Homo sapiens: one gene and its partner. The protein of the gene in region 2 interacts with the protein of the main gene of each other region in a biochemical or structural test. Each region holds a gene or a part of one and is shown on either strand. Other genes may lie near its edges.

The links.
Region 1: the proteins of GEMIN5 (region 2) and EIF4E form a complex in vitro, tested with the Homo sapiens proteins (one study listed by BioGRID and IntAct).

The regions. Positions count from the first base shown.
Region 1 is NC_000004.12:98,878,776-98,881,454, forward strand, and holds the end of EIF4E (eukaryotic translation initiation factor 4E), read right to left. Parts: intron 2,368-2,679; coding exon 2,253-2,367; 3' UTR 501-2,252; downstream 1-500. UniProt on the Homo sapiens protein: Acts in the cytoplasm to initiate and regulate protein synthesis and is required in the nucleus for export of a subset of mRNAs from the nucleus to the cytoplasm which promotes processes such as RNA capping, processing and splicing.
Region 2 is NC_000005.10:154,927,945-154,931,982, forward strand, and holds part of GEMIN5 (gem-associated protein 5), read right to left. Parts: intron 3,634-4,038; coding exon 3,514-3,633; intron 716-3,513; coding exon 583-715; intron 1-582. UniProt on the Homo sapiens protein: The SMN complex catalyzes the assembly of small nuclear ribonucleoproteins (snRNPs), the building blocks of the spliceosome, and thereby plays an important role in the splicing of cellular pre-mRNAs.

The DNA of each region.
Region 1 (2,679 bases), on a different chromosome or scaffold from region 2:
TTATTATCCTTTCTTGTCCCCAGGAAAAAGGTTTAAAATAACATCATGATTCTAAAATGGTAATACCAATAATCAAATGCTACACATCAGTTATTTCAAAAATTTAGAACTGTATACATTTAATGTGTTAATTCCTCCTTTGCACCTAAAAGCTGATGCTTAAAATTGGACTTCATCTTAGAATTAAGAAAATAGATCAATTTATAATAGATACACTACTTCAGTCCCACCCACTGCCAACATACCAGTAACATCATCACTTTTAAGTAAACTCTTGAAGTACTCAAAACTATACATATTGACATAGACAGTAAGTCACCTTAACCAATTACCCAAGTTTAACTAGCAGATATTATGTACAGTATGCTGAGATTATAATAAACACAGAATTCTGATTCAGTATTTCTAGAATACTGAACAAGAGGTGTTTGTGGCATTGAGAGTACTGTGATAACCTGTGGTACCCTTTAAACTGCTTTAAAATTTTACAATGAAATCAGTGCTATTAATTTCATGTTTATTTCATACAGGGTTTTTGTCAAGTTTATCAGTTTTAAAATGATTAAGTCATAATCACCATTCAAAGACAAATTTTCCTCTCAAAATAATAATTTCCATTCTGCTACCTACAGTTTGGCTTATCCTTTGGTCTGATAGCCATACTTCATCTCACAGGACTATACAAGTATGTACTATGTACAAAACATTTTCAAGTTTGCTTTCAAATGATACCTACAAAGAGTAGATCAAGTTTTCAAGTTTACAGAATACCATACTACAACAATTTACCACTATAAATATGTCTTAACACCTGTTTATTCCATTCTATTTAGATTGCAACACTAACAAGATTCTTAATGCATATGTCCCCACCACCTGTACTTTCCCTACACTATCATTTTGACACTTAACATAGAAACAACTCAATTCAGCAACCAAGTTTTACAACCACTGTTGCTACCAATCAAATGGTGATGCATCAGATCCCAATTCTCATGAGTATTAACATATTAAGAGAGTACATTATTTACCTAAGACTGAATGACTGTGCCTTACTTTATAAAAAAACAAAGATAGCCACATCAATTTAATTCCATATATATGATACTACCTATTCAATTTATTAAAAATTGTAATAAACATAATAATCAAACTAGTGCTCCAAACTTATGCTGTTCACATGGAAGACACCACAAAAGAAGACATAATATAGAGACTGCCTTGCAATAAGAAGTACAAATTCCTTCTATAAAGATGGAGAAATAAAAGGACAAATCTAGTTGTCTAAAAGACAATTCACTGTACACATTTTATTTACAGTTTTGTACACTGTCTTAATATGAATGGGACTGCTTTTCTACTTGAGCCATTTTTAACCAAAGCAAAATAACCTAAGTAATACAAAGTGTTAAAATACAGCATAAAGATACAAAAACAGACATACTAATTCTAGTTAGGAATGTAATTATGATGTTACATTTTTTATAATCCACAATTATGTTTAGGAAATCACACAAACATAGATCACTGATTTGAATGAAATGCATAAATTTGTAGCAAAGCTTTGTAGTTACAAAAAACAAAAAAAATTACCAAAGAATGCACAAAATTAATGTTTATTCCACCTTTGTGTCATATTCCTGGATCCTTCACCAATGTTACATGAGGAAAAAAACAAAAGCAAAACAAATGAAAAACTGAAATCAGAATCACTAATATTATCAAGTAGGGAAACAAATAAATTAAAATCTAGCAGCCATCAGCAAGAGTACAGCAAAGACAATGCTGTAAAAAGAAACAAAGAAAATTGCTAGAAAACTGTATGCATCATAATCTTTCAAACCAGCAAAATATGCTTCTGCATAAAATGGAACAACAGAATTTTTTTTCCTGTAAAGTATAGAAATGCCAAGTTGTTTTCTGACTATTGTGGATAGGTAAAATCTGTATGTAATTAATGGTAATTCTACTGAACTATTACAGAGTGGGCCAGGAACACATTTATGGATTCTGGGGATGTGTACTGTAATTCTTTGATTGGGATAGTGGAAACTCTAGCCAAAAAAAAAAAAAAAAATGAACACAGAAGTACAAGACAAAGGCGAATGAGACTTCTCTTATATCTGAGTAACATTAAGATGGAAATCAAATTTAAATGCAGTCCACTCTGCTTTTTGAAGAGGCTTTGGTTCAGCTCCCAAATCTCGATTGCTTGACGCAGTCTCCTATGAGAATACTCAGAAGGTGTCTTCTTAAACAACAAACCTATTTTTAGTGGTGGAGCCGCTCTTAGTAGCTGTGTCTGCGTGGGACTGATAACCAATCACTATCTTTGGAGGAAGTCCTAACCTTTCCTTGTATACCCTCCTAGAAGAAAAAAAAAAAGAAGAAGAAAAAAGTAGTCATTAACTTTTACTCACAAGAAATACATTTAAAAATTTAGGGTTATTAGTCTTTATATTAAAAAACATAGACTTGAGAATAAAATAGGAAATTAATTATACACCCTTTTCCTTTCAGCACAATTTACTCTTCATTTTTGCGATATTCTTGGTTAATTACTTTTAAAATATTTGAGAGCGAGTCAGGTATGTTATTACTAAATTACAGGAGCATTACTATATTATTATATTGTTATTTATTATGATACTATAATTATTACTAAATCAACAGTGAACA
Region 2 (4,038 bases):
TGCACCACTGCACTCCAGCCTGGGTGACAGAGCAAGACCCTGTTTCAAAAAAAAAAAAAAATTTAATCACAGAAAGGGGAACCAAGTAGCTAGGGAAGACAGAAAGACAGTTTATTATATACTTTCGTTCTTCTTGAACCATGTGAGTATATTGGACTACCCTTTAAACAGATTTATCTCCAGCCACTAGAAGTAGGTAGTCAATGAACTTTGTTTACTGAATGGGCATAGCCATCCAACCTAAGAGAAAATATTATAACCATCTCCCCTTTCTACACTTGAAGTGACTGAAGCTCAGAAAAGTAAAGGGTCTTGCTCAGGAATACAAGGCAGTAAGTGACAAAGTGATTCTGAAATTTAGTTCTGACTTCAGAGTCCATATTCCTAACTGCCGGACTATACTTATGTGATCTTTTTACAGCTCTGTTAGTAGATAGCACAGGCATTAGTCTCATAATTTTTCCATTTCAAATGGCCCATCATAATACAAGCCTTGGCCATTACTTTCTCCATCCTAGGAGGACTTGAGGCCAAATAGAAAAACAAAATATATCTGAGAAAGCATGACCAAAAAAGACTTACCCAAAACAGCTAGATACCAGCTGTGTTGGTTGATTGCTGGGCCAATGGAGTGTCAACCAAAGGCGCTCTTTAACAGTTGGGTCTATACCCCCTCCTCTTCTCTTCAGAAAGGGCAATTTCAAAATCATCACCCCTGCAGATTAAAAAGAAGGCCAGTGGGCACTCAAGACAGTGAAACTACATGCATGAAGTCACCGGTGGTTCATAACACACAGTCTGCGCTGTAAAAGCTTGTTAGTTTGGCTACTTAGAATTCAGATCTCATTTTCCAATGGTTACAATTTTAACCATTATTATGGTTATAATTTTAATCACTATAAATACTGGTTAATACTAGTCTAGCTACATTTAGGTCAAACAAGCTTCGACAGGCTATCTTGACAACCTCAACGTATTAAGAGTATTTTTTTTTTTTGGCCGGGCGCGGTGGCTCATGCCTGTAATCCCAGCACTTTGAGAGGCCGAGGCGGGAGGATCACGAGGTCAGGAGATCGAGACCATCCTGGCTAACATGGTGAAACCCTGTCTCTACTAAAAATACAAAAAAATTAGCCGGGCGTGGTGGCAGGCACCTGTAGTCCCAGCTACTCGGGAGGCTGAGGCAGGAGAATGGCATGAACCCAGGAGGTGGAGCTTGCAGTGAGCTGAGATCGTGCCACTGCACTCCAGCCTGGGCGACAGAGAGAGACTCTGCCTCAAAAGAAAAAGAGTATTTTTTCGTCTGGGAAAATGAGTTCCCAAGTAAAACTGAGAACCCAGCTAGTAACACAGCTGAGTTGTGTACCCAAAAGTATTGCAGTGACATAACTCCAAAGTGAAAAGGACAGAGGTTGGGATTACTATTTCTAGTCGGCAAGAAATCCAACAAAGAAAAATTTGGCAGTGAACGTGCTGTGGGTGGGGAGTACCTCCACCCGACATGCTTCTAATCACCGTTTTTTAAGCTGTATTGTGCATCGGAACCACAGGTGGAACTTTAAAAAATACATACGCCAGGGCCTAACTCCTAGAGATTCGGACTCAGTAGATCTGAGGTGGGGTACAAGAACCTACATTTTTCCAAAGACTCTCCAGCTGATTCTGCTGCACAACCACAATTGAAGGCCATTTTACCAGACACCTCTAAGTCTAGAGGTTACCCTCCTGGAGGGATCCTCAGCCTTATGTTCCCACTTGGAGTTTTAGCTGCAGTATGCCAAGAAGTAGCCTGTAAACCTTAAAAAAGTTCTGTCTTCCCAAATTATACTATTAGTTACCTACCACTGATGAAGCCTGGATGACATTCCAAGTGCTGTGCTACTTGCTTTACATGCATTTGGGCAAATATGATAAAACTATCATGGTTTCAAATAAAGTAGAAAGTACATCCATGCTCATAGCATATTATTTAGAATAGTAAAACATGGAAGCAACCCAAATGTCCATCAGTGTGTGAGATATGAGTTCTAAATTTCTCTTCAAAGAATCAATATGTCAGTATGTTCAATTATTTGGCTTCTGTTTTTAAACTTAACTTCCTCGTAAAAGCAACCTTTTTCGATTACCTGCTCCATCCTGACTCATTCCGATTACCTGCTCCACCCTGACTCATTCTGATTTCCTGCTCTGCCATAACCATTTTTCCTGCCATAACCATTTTCTCCCATCAAACCACTTACCCCGGCACTCTCTTTAAATCAGCGAATCAGAATTAGTTTAGCCTGTGCGGTCTAACCCTAGCTGATAGGGGAACGACACAGCAGCAGGGGCCACATGCGTCAGGGATAAGAACCCCTCCCCTCCGTTGTCCAAGTGTGCGCTCACCATTGCTCCATCTGTAAGGGCGCACCCTTCTATAGAAGTACATTGCCTTGCTGAGAATTAAAAAGAAAGTTTTATATTTGAGTGCTATTTCTTTTGCCACACCGAAATTTTATTTATAACAAGTGGATGAGTGGGTAAGTAAAATGTGGGACATACACACAATGGAATATTATTCAGCCTTAGAAAGGAAGGATATGCTGACATACGGTACCAACATCAATGAACCTCGGGGATATATGCTAAGTGAAATAAGCCAATCACAAAAAGACATATCATATGTATAACTTCACTCAAAGGAAATACTCAGAGTAGTCAAAATCATAGAGCTGAAAGCAGAATGATGGTTGCCAGGGCCTGGGGGAGGGGGAAATGGAGAGTAGAATTCTGGAGATGGGTGGCTGTGACAGTTGCACAACTTTAGAGTGTACTTCATACCACTTAAATGTACACTTAAAAGTGATAAAGATGGCAAATGTTATATTTTCCACCACAGCTTAAAAAACTGCCAAAAAAAATAAAATAAAATGAAGAAAGAAGAGAAGCCCGCTAGAAAGAGAAAAACAAGATTTTTACTATAAAGGTTATATTCTATGATATACTATAAATATTCATTATGCCTAGAGTTTCTCTCAATTTTTAAACTTAAAGATAAAAGTTCTGTTCAAAGAGACATTTGGGAAAGCTAAATGATTGAGGGGCTCTATAATTTGGATAAAATGAGCTTTTACACATAATTCTATGCTGGGTGTATGTAATTTATTCTGCATTTGTGCATTAAAAGCTCTAACTCTTAAGATATTTTCCATTCTCCTGGCTTAGGCCATATCATGTTCTAATATTCCTGTTTTTATTACAAATATTCTGCTCTCCATGCCAAACACTGACCCTTCTATAAAGCAAGAGATCCTTGTCTTCTCCTGGAATGCATGGGAAATACTAATCTCTAAGGCCAGATGTTGAGAGAATAGAGAGTCTAGGCCAGGCTCAAATGAGGAAGCAGAATTCTAGACCAAAAAGTGAAGAACTGCTCTCAAATAGATGACACACCCTCAGGACAATAAGAACAGAAAACCCTCTACTTCCACCAGATCAACATAGGTTACATCACAAAAGAAAGATCAATCTTACCTCGGCCTCTAGAACAGCTCCAGATTCGAATGGTTTGATCTTTGCTTCCAGTGGCTAAGTAGCAACCTTTTGTTACTGGAGCTTGTGCTACAGCATTCCCGTTGGTAATTTCAGCTTCTTCTATGAGATAGGTGGCAATTTTGTTTTTAATTTACATTAAACACGCACTAATATAAAAAAATTAGTTTGCAAGAGTTTCCAAAACTTAGCTATCTCTTTCATAGGTCTGAACTATAAAATTTGAAGTTTTAGGTATAATTAAAATGATATAATTCGGCCTGGTGCAGTGGCTCACGCCTGTAATCCCAGCATTTTGGGAGGCTGAGGCAGGTGGATCACCTGAGGTCGGGAGTTCAAGACCAGCCTGACCAACATGGAGAAACCTGTCTCTACTAAAAATACAAAATTAGCTGGGCGTGGTGGCGCATGCCTGTAATCCCGGCTACTCGGGAGGCTGAGGCAGGAGAATCGCTTGAACCCGGGAGGCGGAGGTTGCGGTGAGCCGAGATCACGCTCCAGCCTAGG